Regions from separate parts of the Homo sapiens genome. Here all the other regions are reported to be linked to region 1. The links are microRNA targets in miRTarBase. Many come from high-throughput screens and were not tested one by one. Region 1 holds a microRNA gene; each other region holds the end of a gene's coding sequence. Distances are from middle to middle.

The links. The annotated mature microRNA hsa-miR-6742-5p reads AGUGGGGUGGGACCCAGCUGUU and lies in region 1 at 1,370-1,391, opposite strand. An mRNA with a match to its seed (bases 2 to 7 or 8) in the 3' UTR can be bound and repressed. Matches are read on the target gene's strand: a 7mer-m8 pairs with bases 2 to 8, a 7mer-A1 pairs with bases 2 to 7 and ends in A, and an 8mer does both.
Region 2: miRTarBase lists TCF3 as a target of hsa-miR-6742-5p. Seed matches in the 3' UTR shown: 7mer-m8 at 1,492-1,498 and 7mer-m8 at 1,497-1,503.
Region 3: the mRNA of KLHL12 is a reported target of hsa-miR-6742-5p. Seed matches in the 3' UTR shown: 7mer-A1 at 861-867.
Region 4: the mRNA of CYP2W1 is a reported target of hsa-miR-6742-5p. Seed matches in the 3' UTR shown: 8mer at 7,157-7,164, 7mer-A1 at 7,101-7,107 and 7mer-m8 at 6,792-6,798.

What each region holds. Positions count from the first base shown.
Region 1 is chr1:228,395,714-228,398,713 of GRCh38, forward strand. It overlaps MIR6742 (microRNA 6742), which reads right to left and starts at 1,396; the gene lies at 1,335-1,396. It overlaps TRIM11 (tripartite motif containing 11), which reads right to left. Exons shown (of 6, transcript NM_145214.3): 4 at 1,430-1,452; 5 at 1,234-1,334. It overlaps TRIM11-AS1 (TRIM11 antisense RNA 1), which reads left to right. Exons shown (of 3, transcript NR_199157.1): 2 at 1-93; 3 at 1,030-1,254.
Region 2 is chr19:1,603,983-1,611,922 of GRCh38, reverse strand. TCF3 (transcription factor 3) reads left to right here. Exons shown (of 19, transcript NM_003200.5): 19 at 74-2,631. The coding sequence ends at 216. It overlaps UQCR11 (ubiquinol-cytochrome c reductase, complex III subunit XI), which reads left to right and starts at 6,461. Exons shown (of 3, transcript NM_006830.4): 1 at 6,461-6,563. The coding sequence starts at 6,514. RefSeq lists enhancers at 3,252-3,321, 3,352-3,401, 4,884-5,505, 5,961-6,270 and silencers at 6,331-6,590, 6,641-6,710.
Region 3 is chr1:202,889,865-202,892,864 of GRCh38, reverse strand. It overlaps KLHL12 (kelch like family member 12), which reads left to right. Exons shown (of 12, transcript NM_021633.4): 12 at 206-1,745. The coding sequence ends at 332. Among named protein-coding and RNA genes, the nearest start is that of RABIF, 2.2 kb to the right of the region's middle.
Region 4 is chr7:988,314-996,059 of GRCh38, reverse strand. CYP2W1 (cytochrome P450 family 2 subfamily W member 1) reads right to left here. Exons shown (of 9, transcript NM_017781.3): 8 at 7,642-7,746; 9 at 6,420-7,425. The coding sequence ends at 7,238. It also overlaps a transcript of CHLSN not described here. Among named protein-coding and RNA genes, the nearest start is that of CYP2W1, 9.0 kb to the right of the region's middle. RefSeq lists enhancers at 319-368, 6,693-7,293 and silencers at 2,904-2,993, 7,603-7,672.

The sequences.
Region 1 (3,000 bases):
TGGGAGTCTTGCTATGTTTCCCGGGTTGGTCTTGAACTGATGGCCTCAAGCAATCCTCCCGCCTGAGCCTCTCAAAGTGCTGGGATTACAGAGGTGAGCCAATGCATCCAGTCTGTTTTTCCTTTCAATCTCCAAATGAAGGATGTGAATTAGGGCAGCTGTCCCAACCCTGACCACTCCGATTTCAGATCTATCCACCTCTGGAGGCCTGCACACAGTTCCTACACAACAGGCTCCTGACCTGCTAGCAAGAGCTGAGGATAGTACTTCCTTTGGGTGACTGTGATACAAGACTCAGATTTGGGTTTTGTGCCCAGTTCCTGGCGCAGAGCTCACAGAACCCTGGGAATTTCCTGACTGATAGAAGCATCTTGTGCTATCATAAGATGCCCCTTTCCATCACACCTGAGTTGATGCCACTGCAGTGGCTGAGGTGGGGACCTGAGAGCCCAGCATAAGGCCAGCCACCAGAAAGACCAATCCTGTCAGTAGAGGGCGGGAACACTCAGCCCCAGCCTCTGACCTCAGGAAGGGGAAAGGGGTCTGAGGTTGAGCCCCATCACCAATGACCAATGATTTAATCAATCATAACCATGTAATGGAACCTCCACAAAGACACCTAAACAGCTCTTGGGGCTCAGGGAGTTTCCAGGTTGGTGAGCACACTGAGGTGCTGGGAAGGTGCACCCAGGGAGGGTGGGAAAGCTCTGAGCCCTTCCCCAGGCTTTGCCCATGTGTCTCTTCCATTTGGCTCTTCCTGAGTGGTATCCTTCACAATAAACCAATGACAGTAAGTAAAGTGCTCTTCTGAGTTCCATGGGCTGTGCTAGCGAATGCTCACATCTGCAGAGGCGCTGAGGGAACAGAAGTATGGGCAGCCCCTGGAAGTTGTGACTGGCATCTGAAGTGGGGGCAGTCTTATGGGACTGAGCCCTTAATCTGTGGGGTCTGTACTAACTCCTGTAGTGTCAGCACTGGCAATTCTGTTCAATGCTGAATGGAATCCTTGGATACCCAATTCGTTTCCAGAAGTTGAAGAATTGTTTGGTGTGAAAATACCCACACAACTGATGTCAGAAGTATGAGCAGAGGACGTTTTCCCAACAACCCACCACCATGACACTGTGAGTTTGGAGCTGGCAGTGGCAGGGCACAGAACACGTGGCTGGCTGCCCAGGTCCTTGGCAGGTCCCCTCCTGGAGTCATCTCCCCACCTGGGGCCTCCACACCTACCTCGAAACCTCCGCAGTGTCTCTACCAGTCCCGGGACCCTGCACACGGTCCTCAGCTCCATAGGCACAACTTCTGGGGGCTGCAGCTTCACATCCTGGACCCTAGAGGGGACAACCCAGGTGTTGTCGCCATGGCCAACAGCTGGGTCCCACCCCACTCCCTCCTGCCCCCCCTCCAGGAGAGGCTGGGTTCGTACCTGCGCAGGGCGTCCTTGATGTCCTATGTGGGGAGGAGAAACAGCACACTCGGTGTCAGTGACCATCGCTTGCTCCTGGAGTCCCCTCCCCGCCCCTGGAGCCTCGCCCCGTCCCCCTCTCCTACATTTGAGCGTCAGGCAGCAAAAACACACACAGGGGGCCATAAACCACCCGCAGCAAGGCTCAGACACAGGAATGCTGGACAGAGGCTCTGACATGTGTGCCAGGAGGCATCACCAATGGGGTGCAGCCCAGCCCTGCGGACCAAGGCCCACTTCTGCCTGACACTTGGATGTAGGGCATCTGGCTGTTGGCTCACTCACCCAGAGCCCCAAGTGGGCGCCTCTGGGTGCCAAGGACAGGACAGGCACACATCCCAGCCTTCAGCATAGGGGCACCTCCACCCCAGCTGGAGCCCAACCCTGTGGTTGCACTGCTTCCTCTCCCAGCTCCACCTGCCCTGCAGGCTCCCTGCTCAGCCCCACTCTTGGGCGTGCGTCCTTCCTGTGTCACTGCCTGATACGTGATAGCATCTGACTCCATGTTAGGGCCCGAATTGTGTCCATCCCGCCAAATCCGTATGTTGAAGCCAGAAACTTCAGGACTTCAGAACTTGACTATTAGAAAAAAGGGCTTTTAAAGAGGAAATCATAGTAAAATGAGGCCATTAGGGTGGGCTGCAATCCAAAATAACTTGAGTCTCATAAGAAGGGGCGACTAGGACACAGACACCCACAGAGGGGAGACCCTGTGAGGATACAGGGAAGAAAAGGCATCTACAGGCCCAAGAGATAGGCCTCAGGGGGAACCAGCTTTGACCTCAGTCTTCCAGTGTGCAGGACTGGGAGACAATCAGTCTCTGCTGGGGAAGCCTCCTGGCAGGTGGTACTAAATGTGGCAGCCCGAGCTGGCGTGATACACCCAGGTATTGGAACATCAGCTCTTAGGAGACACGGTCTTGTATCTCTTAGAGCAGTCTTCAGTGCACTGCAAGGATTTAACCCACACTGTCAAATAGACGATCCCACACCATGTTCATTCTAACACACGTGGTGCCAGCTACCAGGCCAGGATGCAGAGGTCAGTAAGACATAATCCCAGACAAGGGTTTCCCTACATGTAGGAGAAATGGCAAAGGAAGATTTCCACACATACGGGTAGTTAATTCTGTCTAGGGGGACAACAACACACTCTAGGCCCCAAAAATTTTTTAAAAAGGAGGCCAGCACTTTGGGAGGCCAAGGCAGGCAGATCACTTGAGTCCAGGAGTTCAAGACCAGCCTGGGCAACACAGCAAGGTCCCATCTCTAAAAAAAAATTTTAAAATTAGCTGAGCTTGGTGGTGTGTGCCTACAGTCCCACCTACTCAGGGGACTGAGATGGAAGGATCGCTTCAGCCCAGGACATCGAGGCTGCAGTCATAATCACATCACTGTACTCTAGCCTGGGCGACAGAGTGAGACCCTGTCTCAATAAATAATTCATAAATAAATAAATAAAGAGGAGACTCTTGGTAGGGTTCTGAAGCCCAAGAAGAATTTGTTGGTAGACACAGGGGGAGTGCGCAGGG
Region 2 (7,940 bases), not on the chromosome of region 1:
ACCCCCCACTCCCACCTCACATCTTTCTCCTCCCTGGGACCGTCTCCCACAGAGCTCTCCCCCCTCCCTCCAGAGCGGAACCTGAATCCCAAAGCAGCCTGTTTGAAACGGCGAGAAGAGGAAAAGGTGTCAGGTGTGGTTGGAGACCCCCAGATGGTGCTTTCAGCTCCCCACCCAGGCCTGAGCGAAGCCCACAACCCCGCCGGGCACATGTGAAAGGTATGCCTCCGTGGGACGAGCCACCCGCTTTCAGCCCTGTGCTCTGGCCCCAGAACGGCCACTCGAGACCCCGGGCTTCATCCACATCCACACCTCACACACCTGTTGTCAGCATCGAGCCAACACCAACCTGACAAGGTTCGGAGTGATGGGGGCGGCCAAGGTGACACTGGGTCCAGGAGCTCCCTGGGGCCCTGGCCTACCACTCACTGGCCTCGCTCCCCCTGTCCCCGAATCTCAGCCACCGTGTCACTCTGTGACCTGTCCCATGGATCCTGAAACTGCATCTTGGCCCTGTTGCCTGGGCTGACAGGAGCATTTTTTTTTTTTCCAGTAAACAAAACCTGAAAGCAAGCAACAAAACATACACTTTGTCAGAGAAGAAAAAAATGCCTTAACTATAAAAAGCGGAGAAATGGAAACATATCACTCAAGGGGGATGCTGTGGAAACCTGGCTTATTCTTCTAAAGCCACCAGCAAATTGTGCCTAAGCGAAATATTTTTTTTAAGGAAAATAAAAACATTAGTTACAAGATTTTTTTTTTCTTAATGTAGATGAAAATTAGCAAGGATGCTGCCTTTGGTCTCTGGTTTTTTTAAGCTTTTTTTGCATATGTTTTGTAAGCAACAAATTTTTTTGTATAAAAGTCCCGTGTCTCTCGCTATTTCTGCTGCTGTTCCTAGACTGAGCATTGCATTTCTTGATCAACCAGATGATTAAACGTTGTATTAAAAAGACCCCGTGTAAACCTGAGCCCCCCCGTCCCCCCCCCCCCCCGGAAGCCACTGCACACAGACAGAACGGGGACAGGCGGCGGGTCTTTTGTTTTTTTGATGTTGGGGGTTCTCTTGGTTTTGTCATGTGGAAAGTGATGCGTGGGCGTTCCCTGATGAAGGCACCTTGGGGCTTCCCTGCCGCATCCTCTCCCCTCAGGAAGGGGACTGACCTGGGCTTGGGGGAAGGGACGTCAGCAAGGTGGCTCTGACCCTCCCAGGTGACTCTGCCAAGCAGCTGTGGCCCCCAGGGCTACCCTACACAACGCCCTCCCCAGGCCCCCCTAAGCTGCTCTCCCTTGGAACCTGCACAGCTCTCTGAAATGGGGCATTTTGTTGGGACCAGTGACCCCTGGCATGGGGACCACACCCTGGAGCCCGGTGCTGGGGACCTCCTGGACACCCTGTCCTTCACTCCTTTGCCCCAGGGACCCAGGCTCATGCTCTGAACTCTGGCTGAGAGGATGCTGCTCAGGAGCCAGCACAGGACACCCCCCACCCCACCCCACCATGTCCCCATTACACCAGAGGGCCATCGTGACGTAGACAGGATGCCAGGGGCCTGGCCAGCCTCCCCCAATGCTGGGGAGCATCCCTGGGCCTGGGGCCACACCTGCTGCCCTCCCTCTGTGTGGTCCAAGGGCAAGAGTGGCTGGAGCCGGGGGACTGTGCTGGTCTGAGCCCCACGAAGGCCTTGGGCTGTGCGTCCGACCCTGCTGCAGAACCAGCAGGGTGTCCCCTCGGGCCCATCTGTGTCCCATGTCCCAGCACCCAGGCCTCTCTCCAGGTCTCCTTTTCTGGTCTTTTGCCATGAGGGTAACCAGCTCTTCCCAGCTGGCTGGGGACTGTCTTGGGTTTAAAACTGCAAGTCTCCTACCCTGGGATCCCATCCAGTTCCACACGAACTAGGGCAGTGGTCACTGTGGCACCCAGGTGTGGGCCTGGCTAGCTGGGGGCCTTCATGTGCCCTTCATGCCCCTCCCTGCATTGAGGCCTTGTGGACCCCTGGGCTGGCTGTGTTCATCCCCGCTGCAGGTCGGGCGTCTCCCCCCGTGCCACTCCTGAGACTCCCACCGTTACCCCCAGGAGATCCTGGACTGCCTGACTCCCCTCCCCAGACTGGCTTGGGAGCCTGGGCCCCATGGTAGATGCAAGGGAAACCTCAAGGCCAGCTCAATGCCTGGTATCTGCCCCCAGTCCAGGCCAGGCGGAGGGGAGGGGCTGTCCGGCTGCCTCTCCCTTCTCGGTGGCTTCCCCTACGCCCTGGGAGTTTGATCTCTTAAGGGAACTTGCCTCTCCCTCTTGTTTTGCTCCTGGCCCTGCCCCTAGGTCTGGGTGGGCAGTGGCCCCATAGCCTCTGGAACTGTGCGTTCTGCATAGAATTCAAACGAGATTCACCCAGCGCGAGGAGGAAGAAACAGCAGTTCCTGGGAACCACAATTATGGGGGGTGGGGGGTGTGATCTGAGTGCCTCAAGATGGTTTTCAAAAAAATTTTTTTAAAGAAAATAATTGTATACGTGTCAACACAGCTGGCTGGATGATTGGGACTTTAAAACGACCCTCTTTCAGGTGGATTCAGAGACCTGTCCTGTATATAACAGCACTGTAGCAATAAACGTGACATTTTATAACGATGCCCTGCAGTCCCCGGGTTCTTTCTGGTGTCACATGTTTAGGAAGGGAAGTGGGGGGGGGCCCTGACGTTCACCTCGGGTGCAGCAAGGACCGTGGTCCACCCTGTGCACTGGGCTTCCTCGAAGCGACTCCTCACTCTGAGGAGCCCATGGCTCCCAGGGCGGCTGGGAACCTGCATGTGTACTCAGGGCTCCAGGCCACCTGGAAGCAGGATTGGCTCCCGGGGAAAAGCAGCTCCCTGGGGGCTGCACTTGGGCGCGTAGGAACCATCCAGGACCTGCGGTCCTCCCAGCCCCCATCTGGGAGGGCTCCCCATCTCCCAACGTCCCCCCCCCGGGCTGTTGGAACCCACTTCCCTGCCCCTTCCTGCTCCGAAGTCGGCTCGAAGTCTGAGTCTGTCACTGCTCCTCTGAAACCTTCCACGGCTCCGTTGCTGGCAGCGTCAACCCCACACTCCTTAGTGCGGCATCTGTGACTTCCTCCACAACCGGATGCCCACGGAACCCACGGACAGAGCTCTCGGGGGGAAGGGGTGTGGCAGGACCTGTGGGGGCGCTGCTCATCCCAAAGTGCCCACTGGCAGGCATCTGCTGCTGTGCCCAGGGACTTGGCCGCTGCATCTCTGCGAGGACACAGCTGGACTGCCCTGCTCCCCTACAGGGTTGGGGTGGAAGGAGTGCCTTCCTGGCCACTTGACGGGGGGTGGCCCCCAGGAGAGAGCCCTTTGGCACACAAGTGCCTTAGGGAGGAGAAGGCTCAGCACAGTGACTCATATCTGTAATCCCAGCACTTCAGGTGGCTGAGGCGGGAGGATCGCCTGAGGCCAGGAGTTCCAGTCCAGCCTGGGCAACATAGTGAGACCCCATGTCTATAATTTTTAAGGGAAAGAGAGTGGCCAGGAGTTGACAGAAGGTGCTGAGGGAGCCCTGTCCACCACTCTACCCAGCTGGCCTCTAAATTCATGCTGGAAAACAACTTTTAAAATATACATTGGCCGGGCGCGGTGGCTAACGCCTGTCATCCCAGCACTTTGGGAGGCTGTGGCGGGTGGATCACTTGAGGTCAGGAGTTCGAGACCGGCCTGGCCAACATGGCGAAATCCCATCTCTACTAAAAATACAAAAATTAGCCGGGCATGGTGGCGCAAGCCTGTAATCCCAGCTATTTGGGAGGCTGAGGCAGGAGAATAGCTTGAACCCAGGAGGCAGGGATTGCAGTGAGCTGAGATTGCACCACTGCACTCTAGCCTGGGCGACAGAGCGAGACTGTCTCAAAAAATCAAAATTAAATTGGTTGTACCTGGTGACACACACTTGTAGTCCCAGCTACTTAGGAGGTTCAGGTGGGAGGATCGCTTGAGGTGGCAGTGAACTGTGATTGCACCACTGCACTCCAGCCTGGGCAACAGAGCCAGAACCTGTCAAAAAAAAAGGGTGGGCCAGGTGCAGTGGCTCATGCCTGTAATCCCAGCACTTTGGGAGGCCAAGGCGGGCGGATCACGAGGTCAGGAGATCGAGACCATCCTGGCTAACGGTGAAACCCCATCTCTACTAAAAATACAAAAAATTAGCCAGGCGTGGTGGCGGGCACCTGTAGTCCCAGCTACTCGGTAGGCTGAGGCAGGAGAATGGCGTGAACCTGGGAGGCGGAGCTTGCAGTGAGCCAAGATCATACCACTACACTCCAGCCTGCAGCCTGGGCGACAGCAAGACTCCGTTTCAAAAAAAAAGGGTGGAGGGGACATCCAGATGGTCCAACAAAATAACAAAAACCGGCTCAAGAAACAAAAAGGAAGTTCTATGTCATGTTGAATGGCTTCAGGCACAGCTGGATCCAGGTGTCATTACAAATCTCTCTCCATCTCTCAGCTCTTGTTTATGTCACTGTCTCTGATGAACTCTTTTTTTTGTCTGTTTGTTTTGAGACGGAGTTTCACTCTTGTTGCCCAGGCTGCAGTGCAATGGCGTGATCTCGGCTCACCGCAACCTCTGCCTCCCGGGTTTTCAAGCAATTTTCCTGCCTCAGCCTCCCGAGTAGCTGGAATTACAGGCATCCGTCACCATGTCCGGTTAATTTTGTATTTTTAGTAGAGATGGGGTTTCTCCATGTTGGTCACGCTGGTCTCGAACTCCCAGTCTCAGGTGATCTGCCCGCCTCAACCTCCCAAAGTGCTGGGATTATAGGCGTGAGCCACCGTGCCCGGCCACTGGTGAACTCTTACATTGTGGCATCTGGAAACTCTGGGCTGACATTCCAGCAGCCCTTGTGTTCCTGTCCTTTCTCTTAATAGTCTCTGTGTCAGCCCCTGCATCCCACTTTTTTAAGTTTCCACCAATGGGAAGAGTCTTATTCAGGTGCTCTCTGATCCCAAGCTCAAAAACCCCAAGCCAACTGGAAAGTTCTACAAACAATGCCCAGGGCCGGGCCCGGTGGCTTACACCTGTAATCCCAGCATTTTGGGAGGCGGATCACTTGAGGTCAGGAATTCAAGACAAGCCTGGCCAACATGGCCAAACCCCATCTCTACTAAAAATACAAAAACTAGCCAGGTGTGGTGGCTCACGCCTGTAGTCCCAGCTACTTGGGAGGCTGAGGCAGGAGAAGCTTGAACCCGGGAAGCGGAGGTTGCAGTGAGCCGAGATCGTGTCATTGCACTCCAGCCTGGGCCACAGAGCGAGACTCCGTCTCAAAAAAAAAAAGAAAGAAAAACAGTGCCCAGACTGTGGTGTCCAAAACCTATTTCCGGCTCCCACCCTGAGTCCTTAACCAGGGATAGGGATGGGTTAGCACCCGCAGTCCCCAGAGAGCTGCAGGCTTGGGGTGTACTGAGGGGCTGACCCCAGGAGGACAGGCCAGGCTGGGCAGAAGAACCCACGGTGTCCATTCCTTATCACGAGGCCTGCAAGTGACGCTGGCGCCCGAGAGACAAATCACGCCCAGTGCCCCGTCTAGGCTATGGCCTTTCCGTTCATGCTGTAAAGGTGCCTGTGGGTCAGGCAGTCCAGGAGGGCTTCCTGAGGGAGGCAACTCTTGAATATGGGGGAAAAGGCACAAAAGTGCAATGGCGGTGTCTGGGAATATGCCCCTCTTCCTTCTGCCCACACCGGCCCGGTGTGCAGGGGGGAGGCTGGAAGCTGGGAGCTGAGTGAGCATGTACGGTGCTGCGCCGGGTTGTGGGAGAGCAGAGGAAGCAGGGACTGGAGAAAGGCGAGCCCAAGCGAGCCTGGTGCGGTGGAAAGCAGGAGGCAGAAAGACCTGCCTGTCATCAGCTAAGAGCATCCAGAGACGTTCACCGAGCAAGGAGCCAGGCCACCCTCTGCTGCCGGAATGAGGAATAACCCAGGCTCGCAAACGGAATCCTGCAAAGAGATTTCCGACAGGGCCTCCAAGCAACGGGCAACGCTGAGGCTCAGGGAAGCACTGCCGCTCGACCAAAGTCCTACAGCGAATCAGGAACAACGCCTGACGCCTCCAAAAGTGGGCTCCAATCCCAGCTCTTCCCCTCTGTGTGACTCTGAGCAAGACCCTTCCCCGCTGGACCTCAGTTTCCTTCATTGTAAATAACGTTCTGGCACATACTAGGCGCACAAAATCACTGGCAGGTAGCCCCGCGGAGCCCAGAAGCACAATCGGCCGCCAGACCACGTGGCCAGAAAGCACCGCCCTAACGCCGCCCACTCCGGACCACTTCTCCGCGGTCGTCCAACCCTCGCCGGAAGTTACTGTAAGTGGCTTCCGGGTCTGCGCGCACAGTGGCGGATGATGTTTTTTTTTCCTCCCCCCCCCCCCGCCCTCCCCGCGCGCGTGCGCGCCGCGGCCGCGCCTGCGCAGTGTAGCCGGGTCAGCTGGACAGGGTCATCCTGAGGGTGCGACTCCGCCGCGATGGTGACCCGGTTCCTGGGCCCACGCTACCGGGAGCTGGTCAAGAACTGGTGAGGACGCCGACCCGCGGCCCCATCCGCGCTCCCGCCTCGGCCCAGCCCCGCGCCGCTGCGTTCCGTATTTGTGCGCGTTTCCGGGGGCCGGGCCGGGCCGGGCCCAGGTCCCTTGTTGTTCCCGGTGACAGAGGGGGAAACTGAGGCCGAGAGGCGGAGCGGCGCGTCCCGGCGTGAACGGGACGTGACGGACCCAAGGCCAAACCCCAGCATGCCCGGCTCCGCGGCTAGGCCGCTCCAAGCCTCAGTTTCCCCATCTCTACCGGGGGATCCGAATGGTGACCCCCTGGACGGAAGCGCCCAGAAGGTGCCGAGTCCCGATCCCCAGCCCAGCACTCGCGGCATCTTCGGCCTTTGCCACTATTTTGGTTTTTATGATTTTTAACAAGGAGCGTGAAAGCTTCAGCTGCGCCTGAGCCCACGTGGGCAGCGGGACGGCATAGGGGTGGCCCCCATAGAAGCCGGGCTGGGGGTGGCCTCCGTAGGGTTGTCTGGTGTTTCCACGTGGGGTGCTAAGAAGCAAGGCCTGGCTGGGTGCGGTGGCTCCCGCCTGTGATCCCAGCGCTTTGTGAGGCCGAGGCAGGTGGATCACCTGAGGTCAGGAGTTCGAGACCAGCCTGGCCAACGTGGTGAAACCCGCGTCTCTACTAAAAATGCAAAAATTAGCCAGGCGTGGTGGCGGGTGCCTCTAATCCCAGCTACTCGGGAGGCTGAGGAAGGAGAATCGCTTGAACCCGGGAGGAGGAGGTTGCAGTGAGCTGAGATTGCGCCATTGCACTCCAGCCTGGGTGACAGAATGAGACTGTGTCCCAAAAAGAGAAAAGAAAAAAAAAGCAGCAAGGTCTTAGCCGGGTGCAGTGGCTCCGGCCTGTGATCCCAGTGCTTTGGGAGGCCCAGGCAGGAGAATCACTTGAGCCTGGGAGTTCAAGACCATCCTGGACAACACAATGAAACCCCATCTCTACAAAACAAAAAATTATCAGGGCATGGTGGCACCTGTCTGTAGTCCCAGCTACTGGGGAGGCTAAGGTGGGAGGATCGTTTGAGCCTGGGAATTTGAGACCAGCCTGGGCAACACAGCAAGACCTTATCTCTACAAAAAAATTTAGAGCTGCTGGGCGCAGTGACTCACGCCTGTAATCCCAACACTTTGGGAGGCCAAGGCGGGCGAATCACCCGAGGTCAGGAGTTTGAGACCAACCTGACCAACATGGAGAAACCCCGTCTCTACTGAAAATACAAAATTAGCCAAGTATGGTGGCGCGTGCCTGTAATCCCAGCTACTTGGGAGGCTGAGGCAGGAGAATCGCTCAAACCCGGGAGGTGGAGGTTGTGGTGAGCTGAGATTGTGCCATTGCATTCCAGCCTGGGCAA
Region 3 (3,000 bases), 26 Mb from region 1:
TGGAAAGGAATAGAAGGCTAATTTCTTTCTTTCTTTCTTTAAATTTTATTGAGACAGGGTCTCACCATGTTGCCCAGGCTGGTCTCAAATTCCCTCCTGGGCTTAAGCAATCCTCTTACCTCAGCCTCCTGCATAGTTGGGATTACAGGCACGTGCCACTGCACGCAGCTGACTCATTTCTTTCTTTTGCTTCTTTCCCACTCAGATATGATGGTAATTCCCTGCTAAGTAGCATTGAATGTTATGACCCTATCATCGACAGCTGGGAAGTCGTGACATCCATGGGAACCCAGCGCTGTGATGCTGGTGTTTGTGTTCTCCGCGAGAAGTGACCATTGTTGGAGCACCATCCAGAGCTAGTGACCAGTCCAGTGGACAGTTAGTGGGAGAATCAAAAATCCTTTCCAGAATGTCTGTTTCTCACTATGTGCACCGGGTGATTACAGGCACCAGTGCAGTGATGATTGTACTTATTTGACACATACTCCCCGTCGTCCTGGTTCTTGTTCCTGAGAAGGGTGGGTAACAGATATTCCAGGAAAAAGAATGCACATTGAATGGATGTGAGAGACCACATTGCCTCTCCCACTGCTTTGGGGAGCACTTTCCTGTCATTTCTAACTTACCACATGCTTGGTGTACTATATGTATGTTGTGCCTCATATGTTGCAAAGAACTAAGGTGAGTATAGCCTACTAGATATGGGCAATATCCAGCCTAGATGATTGGAAAGATACCAGTTTAAGTAAACTTGGTAAAATCCAAGTCTTTTTTTTTTTTTCCAGGAACAACTACATTTTCTCATATACAGGTAGCTAGGGGCAACACAGTTCCATTCTAGAGGGAAACAAAAGGGAGAGCCCCACAAAACTTTGGGGACAAGGGAGAGAGAGACTCATCTGACACTTCTTTTGGAGGTCAGGATTTGTATATCAGAATTGAAGTTAGAATTAAGTGAATTAAACTGAATTTGATTGTGAGTGAACCTAGAACAGCACTGAAGTATTACATAACCTGGAAGACTGAGAAGGGTATATTATTTGAAGGATCTTTTTATTTCCCCGAGGTCTTTCGCACTGGAGACAGCATAAAAGAGTGAACAAATGTTGGGATGAGAGAAGATGACATCAATGTGGGAGTTCAGTATAACTGGGGATAAACTAGAAGAACCTGTGATTTTACAGTCATCTTATTACCTGCCAGGGCTCATCTAGCCATGGCAATGTTTGCCTTGAATGGGGGTGAAAGCCTTTCTTTGTTGGATCAAATACTACTACACTATTACACTTCCACACTATTTATTTGGGGATGGGCTGGGAGTGACAGTAGCCTAGTAGTTCAGCTACCTGATTACTGCCCCATTCTTTTAGAAGCACATGTCTGCCAAGGAGTGGTTTGTACTGCTGTGTTTGGTACATCTAGTCTTTTTTCTGCTATAAGTTTTCCTTACCTGTCCTTTAGTGTAGATTTTATTCATCACAGGACAGAATAATCAAGGACAACCAAAATCCTTTTGTTAGTTTCAGTACCTCAGCTATCAACATTTCTGAGCTACCATTCAATGTTCCTCTGTGTCATGGAGTGAAATTCTTGTTTTGTGGGTATTAGGAGTGTGGGAATGTGATAACCTAAACAACCTTTGCTCTGAAATTCCATTTTTCCCTCTTTCCCTGAGTTGTATTGACCTACAGAGTTAATTTCCTTTGTATTTTTTTAAGAAAATATTAAAAATCAACGGTCTCAAATGCCGAGAGTTTGTGGCTAACCAACATTGCCTTTAGTAGATATTTGGGAGGGAAAGATGTAGGGATCAGCCGTAGCTCCTGTCTCTTCAAGCTGTTCATCTTGTGTGTTTGCCAACTAGTTCCGCTATTTCTATGTTAGACACAGGTAAGAGGTAGCCACTTTACACTTTGGAGATTCTCATCAGTAAAATATTTACCTGATTTGCCATATTCATTAGCCCCTCTGACGCTTGGAGTTACTTGAAAAAGGAATACAGAAAAGATCTTGAATTCACTTAGCACGCGCTTGAATTTCAGGGTTTCAGTCACACCAGTCCTTTTTTCCATTTGCTTTGAATTGTGGCATGTGATATAAACAGCTATGCGGAAGGCCTGCAAAACTGAAACAGTCCTGATGCTTCCAGAGCAAAAGGAAGGAGGAGCCACATGAGGAAGTTATTTTCCTTAAAAGATGCCTACCAACTTTGGCAGATGGATTGTGCATGCTAATTAAACCAAAGCCTATAAAACGTGACTTTTCCTATCTCAGGAAGAGATCCAGGGGAGGGTGAAGGACTGATGGCTCCTATGCTGTCTTCAGTGCTGACTAATGAGTTTCAGACCAACTTCACAAATAGTTCATACACTGAAGCCACAATGGTATGTTCTACAGAAAAATCAACACGTAAAACAGCTCCTTTTTCACTCTTCACAATCGTACACACTTTCATGTGCTCACATACATACACAGAGATACCCCTAATTTGGTGGTTCATCTTATTTTTTTAAGCTCCCATAACTGGCAACCAGCTACTTAGTTATCTAACCTGGGAAAACCAGCAGTTGCTTTGTGTCACCCCCATCACAATACAGACATCCAGCTAGTTTCTAAGTTCTGTACAATTTTAATTGTTTCAAGTCCATTCCCATATCTTTGTTCCCTCTGCTAGCTTCAGGGCCTTTCTGAGCTAGACTGATGAGGTAATAGCTACCTGATACCTTACCTCTACTCTTTTTCCTCTCTTCAATCTAGCCCCTCTATTTATTCATAGGTTATCTTTCTGAAGCACAGATAGGATCATTACAGTGCTTAACATACAGCAGACAGTAAATATCGAACAGTTATTTCTGGCCTAAAATTCCACAGATTCCCATTGTTCATGTTATTAATGTTAAATTCCTTAGCATGACATTAAAGCCATGGAGCTCTGGGCCCACTCTGCCTTACCTACCTCTACTACCACTTCTCCCCACGTGTAATGTGGGTCAGCCACAG
Region 4 (7,746 bases), not on the chromosome of region 1:
GGCTGGGCTAAGATGTGGTCTGGGCAGGTCTGGCTGACCACTCAGGCCATCTCTATGTGGACATCGAGACTCGGGGCCGGAGGAGACCCTAAGGACCGTGTCCCCAGGTCCTCTCTGCACCCACCAAGCTGTGGGAAGGAGATGAGGCTGTTTGCTCTTCCTTGGCCAGCATCCAGCCCCGTCCCCCAACTGTTGTGGCCAAAATTCTGACCACCCACGACACAGGGCCTGCTGTGTGCACCCCACTGGCCCAGGGCGGGCCTTGCCGGCGGCAGGCGAGGAGTCCAGCCCCTCCTGGTGTCGGTCAGGTGAACTCACAAACAGGAAGGCACGTTGCACAGCACGAACCTTCAGATCTGCCAGGCGGTGCCTGCGATCCGGCTGCTGGCAGCACAGCTTTGCAGAGAAGCTGCTGGGAAGGGTCCGTGTTCAGCCCAGCAGTCAGGGTGCTCAGTGGCCCCTATGCTGTGAGGCACCTTAAACAAACAGCAGAGGGAGACCCGCAAAGTGCAAAGAAGGGGCAGCAGCCTCCAGAAGGCAGGGCTGATGGATCCGGAACCAGAGCTCTGAGCTTCCCAGCAGCCGAGTCAGAAAGGGAAATGGGGTGGGTACTGCTGAGTCCTCACCGACCATTAGTGGGAAAAGGTCTTGAAGACCTGGGCCTCCCTTCGACAGCACAGATGCTCCCCTGACACCGGCTGGGGAGTGCTCTCCTGTCAGGGGTTCCCACCTCTGTGGATCGTAAGGTGCCAAGCTCCTCAGGGCTCCCTGGCGAAAGATGCCGAAGGGTGGCGCAGAGAAGTCACCTGGAATGTGGCTCAGAGAACCACGCAATGCCCTGGGGTCTCCCTACCCCGTGCAGGTCAGTGAGGGCACCCGCCCATGCAACCCCAGGGGCCAGCCACGTCGGGCCACATGTGCTGGGGCTGTGTGTGCCAGAGAACGGGCTGTGAGTCCCTGTCTCAGCTGGCGCTTGTGCGGGACTCCTGAGCCAGGAAGCCTCCGGCTAAGGAAGCCCCGCCTTAGCCTGGAGACGACCCTCACGTCCGTCCCTCACGTCTGTCCCTCGGCAAGTGCTCCTCACTGTGGAGAGGGCAGCTGCTGACCTGCAGCAAGCCAGGTGGCGGATCAAGATTTGTGCCAAGTGAGGGGCCAAACTTAGCGTGGGCATGCGTGCTTTTCTCTTTACATGTGTCCAAGGCCATAAGCGATGGGCTGTGACAAAGCACATCTGGGCTGAGCTCAGGGAGAAATGTCCCCTGCAGTAGATATGCAAGTGTGTGCAGGTGTCAGAAACACCAAGCCACACACTGATAACTCATGCCGGGTGCGGCGGCTCACACCTGTAACTCAGCACTTTGGGAGGCAGAGGCGGGAGGATCGCTTGAGCTCAGGAGTTTGAGACCAGCCTGGGCAACATGGCTAAACTGCCCCCCAACAAAAAATAAAAAATCCGGGGATGGTGGCATGTGTCTGAAGTCACAGCTACTCGGGAGGCTGAGGTGGGAGGATGGCTTGAGCTCGGGAGGTCAAGGCTGCAGTGAGCAGTGATTACACCACAGCAAGAGCCGGCATCTAAAAAAAATTTAGTGCGGTGAGCACTAAATTTAGTGGCTCACGCCTGTAATCCCAACACTTTGGGGGGGGCCAAGGTGGGCGGATCATGAGGTCAGGAGTTCGAGACCAGCCTGACCAACCTGGTGAAAGCCCATCTCTACTAAAAATACAAAAATTAGCTGGGTGTGGTGGTGGGCGCCTGTAGTGATCCCAGCTACTCAGGAGGCTGAGTCAGGAGAATCGCTTGAACACGGGAGGCAGAGGTTGCAGTGAGCCGAGATCGTGCCATTGCACTCCAGCCTGGGTGACAGAGCGAGACTCTGTCTGAAAAAATAAATACATAAAAATAAAAGTAATGTTTTTAAATAATCAAAGGGAGCATTGTTTGGAAGTCAGAATCACATTGCCTGTGGGGGTGAGCAGACCTGTGGAGACTGGGCTTTCCAGGCCAAAGGGCCCTCCCTGACATTGGGGGTGCGAACACGCAGAGCAGGCTGGAGACCTCTCACAGCACTGTGCGGCTTCCGGAAACCGTCCCCTGCCCCAGCCCACCCAGCCCTCTGAGGAAGCGGCCTCTGAGCAGTTTCTTGCAGGATTGATGTCTGAGAAACAGCTCACACCAAGTGCCGTCTGCTCACTCCACCAAGAGTGACACAGGTTCGGCCGCTGAATCACCCTCAGAGCACTGTCCTCCCTCCAAGCCCCCAAGAGAGTGGCATCTTTTTAGAGACAGGGTCCCGCTCTGTCGTCCAGGCTGGAGTGCGGTGGCATGAGCTCTGCTCGCTGCCACCTCCACCCCCCTGGGCTCAGGCGATTCTCCTCCCTCAGCCTCCTGAGTAGCTGGGAACACAGTTGCTACCACTACACCCGGCTAATTGTTGTATTTTTTGTAGAAGCGGGGGGCCTCACTGTGTTGCCCAGGCTGGTCCCAAACTCCTGGGCTCAAGCGATCCTCCCACCCCGGCCTCCCACCGTGCCTGGGATTTATTTCTGGATGACTCGGTGCCCAGTGTTCACATCCCAGAGCCTCAAGCTGACCTTCCAGCCCGGGCCGGCGCTGTCCGCTCCCCACTCCTCTCCCTGGAGCGCTGGCAGCCTCCAGCTGGGCTCTTTCTCTGCCTGCCTGTCCCTGCCTGTCCCTGCACAGATCAGGTGGCGCCACCTGCCGTCCGTCCAGTCCCTCGGCTCTTGCTCCAGTCACAGTCAGGCCCTGGCCGGGCGCCGTGTGCCATGCGCCCTCCAGTGGCTCCCAGGGAACGGGCGCTCTCTCCACGCGCTCCAGCTGCCGTCCCCCTGCCCTGTCTGGGTCAGGCCACCCCCCGCCCACTGGGACCTCAGAAGCACTCGTACCCCTGCTGGCTGCGTGGGTTTCACAGGCGATAAAGCTGAGTGCAGCCTCAAACCCTGAATAGTCATCAAAGTTAGGATCCTACAGACTCCTCCAAGCCTCACCTCATCACCCCTGTGGCCCAGCAGTCCAGAGCCATGGGCCACCCCCTCCCCCGCTTGTTATGCAGCAGGAGCTACCCGATGCACTCTGACCTCAGACACCCTAGGACTTTGCTTAGATTTCACAAGGGACTGAGTCCAGGCAGGAGGGGTGGGGAATTTGGCCAGCGATGGGCCTGCCTCGGGGCATTTGTGAGACCTGCCCGGAGAGACAGCTGGGCGCTAGGCTGAGCTGTCCAAGTCCCACTGCCCTCTGAAGCCTGGTGAGCCCACCCAGCCCTCCAGTGTCTTACCTCCTTCCCCCTCAGCATCCAAGGTGGGAAGAAGACCCCCGCTCTGAGGGAGCCCCAGCAATCACGGGGAGGGCCCAGGTCCCAGAGTGAGGCCGGCTTCCAGCCTCTGGGTTCCAGAAGTTTCCTAATGGGGGCTGCCCACTCCGAGGGAGGAGCTTCAGGACATCTGAACCAGGACCCCCGCACTGGACAAGGCCCCAGGCCCCTACATGTGTGTTCCCTGTGGGTGTGGTTGAGCGGTGGCGTGGCAGCTCCCTTGGGTCACTTGGGTTCCATTAAACGGCGTCTCCGTGGGTAAAGCTTGGTCTCCTCCTAAGCCCGGCCAGCCCGGCACTCAGATGGCCTCACCCTCCGAGCTTACTGTGGGGGGGCCTCACCCTCCGAGCTTGCTGCGGGAGGTTTGCAGATGGCTCGGGGACTGTGTGGTTTTGTTTTGCCTTGACTTAGGATGGTAATGGGAGGCACGTGCAGCACGGCTGAGGGCCAGCCTCAGACCCAGAAGCAGATCTGGGGCCAAGAGCAGCCTGCCCACCCCAGGAGGGTCCTTCCCTGGAGACCTAGAGGCGGGGGGGTACAGGGGCCGGGGTCGGCGTCCCTCCTGCTGCTGAGGACAGACGTCCGGGGAGCAGTTCAGCCACGTCGTGAGCCATGGGGTTCGGGGTGTCTGCCTCTCCCATGACATCTGGGCACCATGGGGTGGATGTCCACAGAGGCATCTCCCGAAATCCATGCGTGAGGAAGCTGGGCTCGCGGGCTGCCTGCTGCCTGAGTTCTCTGGGACCCTTGAAAAGGACCCATTGGCAGGTGCGTGGATAAAGCAGGACAAATCCACCACTCCCCACTCACTCGAGGTCCCCAGAGCCCTCACACCCACAGACCAGGAAGGAGAAGGACTGGGGAGGGACTCGGAGTGGGTGTTTAACGCAAGCAGGGCTTCAGCCCGGGAAGATGAGGAGGCTCTGGAGGTGACAGTGGTGGCCGTGAATGTGCCTGTGCCCCTGAACTGTGCACTTCAACATGGCTGATGGTGAATTTTCTCTACGTGTATTTTATCACCATTTTTAAAAATAGCAACAAAGAAACACTTGGAAATGAGGCGTAGACAGTGGCCTGTCCCATCCGTGCCAAGCCCCGGCATTTCCCAGCAAGCCCCCGGGACGTGCCTGTGCACCTGGCCGGCAGCCTGAGTGCAGCTGTGAGAAACGGGCACCCAGGTCTGCCCGGTCGAGAAGGTGGCACCTCCGGGGTTCGGGTCTCACTCGGCCCCCCCCTTCCCTCCTGCCCGCCCCACACCCCTGCCCACGCCCATGGGCATGAGTTAAAGGAGATTTGATACCTGCTTACTCTGTTTTCACTAAGCTAGGCTTGTTTACACTTGAGGATGAGGCATTTGGACCGCCTAACTTGGGGGGCCCTGGCTGTACCCCGTGGAGGAGCCCTGTCATCTCGCTGGGTGAGATGGGGTGAGAGGTCGCGTGAGTCGGGCGAGCGGGGTCAGGGTTGGGGTTGGGGTTATGTTTATTGTCTTAGTGCTTTGAGGGGAAGCTCAGCCGTCACTCATCACCCTGTACTTGGTGTCCCTCATGTCGGCTGGGCCTCCATGAAGCGGGGCGGGACAGGGTCAGCGTTTCCTCCCCACGTGGGCCTCGGGCTCCCCTGGGCCCAAGGAGATGAATACCCCAGGCCAATGTAAGGCGGGGGCCCGAGGGTCCCCTGCAGGGCCGGGAGGGCGGGGCCTGAGTCCTTCACCCCACCCAGGAGGCCGACTAAGTTGGGGGCACAAGGGTCCCCTGTAGGGTTGGGAGGGCTGGGCCTGAGTCCTCCACCCCACCCGGGAGCCCTGACAACAGCTGGGAGGGATTTTCCACAGCCCCTGCCCTGGAATGTTCCGCACCCTCCAGAGCTCCAGAGGGGCTCACCAGTCACACTGGGCGGGGCGTCGCGTGGCCCCACCTGGCGCCAGGACCCCGTTCTTTCTGCCCTTCAAGTTTTCAGTGTCATATTTCAAATGTCTGAGGGGAGAATAGTGAAGCCAGCACTCGCTCCCTGCTCTTCCCCAGAAATAGGTGAGCGGACGCAGCCGAGCCTCCATCCCTCCGTCCCCTTCTCGTCCTTGCAGCAGCCTCCGTAGCAGCAGCCCCACCCATGACTTAGGGACCCTGCGGCCCCACCTGGGAGTGTGAGGCCTGCCGTGCACCCGTGTGTCCCGGCCACCACGTCCTGGCCTTGGGGCGCCGCTTCACGTGGCGCAGGTGGGAATGTGCCACGGCTTATCCTCTCTTCTCGGTGAGGGGCCGCCTGCCGCTCACGTGCATGGTCAGCGCTGGGACGGGGGCCAGGGCCGTCTCAGACAGCAGGTGTCCCATCACACCGCCCCCAGCACACGCGCCACTGTCACACTGCCGACCACACCGCCCCCAGCACACGCGCCACTGTCACACTGCCGACCACACCACCCCCAGCACACGCGCCACTGTCACACTGCCGACCACACCGCCCCCAGCACACGCGCCACTGTCACACTGCCGACCACACCACCCCCAGCACACGCGCCACTGTCACACTGCCGACCACACCGCCCCCAGCACACGCGCCACTCACACTGCCGACCACACCGCCCCCAGCACACGCGCCACTCACACTGCCGACCACACCGCCCCCAGCACACGCGCCACTCACACTGCCGACCACACCGCCCCCAGCACACGCGCCACTCACACTGCCGACCACACCGCCCCCAGCACACGCGCCACTCACACTGCCGACCACACCGCCCCCAGCACACGCGCCACTCACACTGCCGACCACGCCACCACCAGCACAGGTGCCACTCACACTGCCGACCACACCGCCACCAGCACACGCGCCACTCACACTGCCGACCACACCGCCCCCAGCACACGTGCCACTGTCACACTGCCGACCACACCGCCCCCAGCACATGTGCCACTGTGTGGCTCGACATTTCCTTCTGTTTGTTTGAGATGGAATCTCGCTCTGTCACCCAGGCTGGAGTGCAGTGGTGCGAACTCGGCTCACTGCAACCTCTGCCTCCCAGTTCAAGCGATTCTCCTGTCTCAGCCTCCTGAGTAGCTGGGATTACAGGCACGTGCCACCATGCTCGGTTAATTTTTTTGTATTTTTAGTAGAGACAGGGTTTCACCATGTTGGGCAGGCTGGTCTCGAACTCCTGACCTCGTGATTCGCCTGCCTCGGCCTCCCAAAGTGCTGGGATTACAGGCATGAGCCACCGCACCGGGTCAGTGTTTCCATTTTTGCCACTGCAGTGCTGCTTGTCTTCAGGGGCTGAGGTGCCCTCCCCCCGCCCCAAGGAAGCCTCTGGCGCCAGTGCCTGTCTCTGAAGGAGAATGTGGGCCTTGCCTCCCTGCACCAGTCATACGCATGGCCCCAGTGGCTTGGCTCAGAGTCTGGCACTGCAGGCCGACTGCCTCCAGGCACAGCTGCAGGAAGTGTTCCAGGAGCGGGAATGGAGTGGGGTCTGCAGGAGTCCCAGGACCTGGGGGGTGCAGGGCTCGCACGCTGAGGACACCCACCTGCGCCTGTCTCTGGCTGGATGCAGCCACCCGTTGTCTCCCTGCAGCCCCAGCTGTAGGTGCTGGGGGGCCCTGGGGGGAGCTAGGTGGGTGGGAGTGCAGCTTCAGGGGTGGGAGAGTGGGCGGGGCCCTGGAGGCGCTCCTGGGGGCTGGCAGGGACTGAGCTGCAGACAGCATCAGAGGGGTGGGGGTCCCACAGGGTCGGGCAGGGGTAGTCCTGGGTGTAACCGGAAGCAGTTGCTGACCCTGTGGGGGTGGGGGTGAGGGTGGGAGTCCTCAGGGCCCTCCCAGAGCAGTCCGAGCTGTGGGGTGGGAGGAGAGAGGGTGGGAGGACCCAGGGCTGGGAGGGGAGTGGTCAGGAGGACCTGGGGGCTGGGGGAGCTCCTAGGGCCTGGGCACCGCACACAGGGCCTGGGCCCTCGGCCTCATGGTAAAAGCCCGGGCGGGCGTGGTGTCCAGGGAGGCCGGACTGACGCCAGGCGGGGGCAGCAGGCGGTACCTCTGCAGGAGGCCGGCAAACAGCAGGAAGAGCTCGGTCCTGGCCAGGCGCTCCCCAACACAGACGCGGCGGCCTGCGGGGGATGTCCAGGCACAGAGTGGGCTGCACCAGGCCTGCTCCTGGAGGGGAGGGGTGGGGACCTCCCCAGGGGAGCACAGGAGCAGCCACCACAGCCGCCTTCAGAACCTGAGATCAGGAGGTGGGTGCAGAGGCGGCAGGCGGAGCTGGGGCCGTCCCACCCCTGGAGCCCTGGAGGTGCCGCCCCACCCCGGCCCCGAGGGCTGCTGACCTGCAGAGAAAGGCAGGAAGGCCTCCCGCTTCACAAAGTGCCCATTCGCGTCCAGGAAATGGCCGGGGTTGAACTGGCCTGGGGTCTGCCACTGTGTCTCATCCA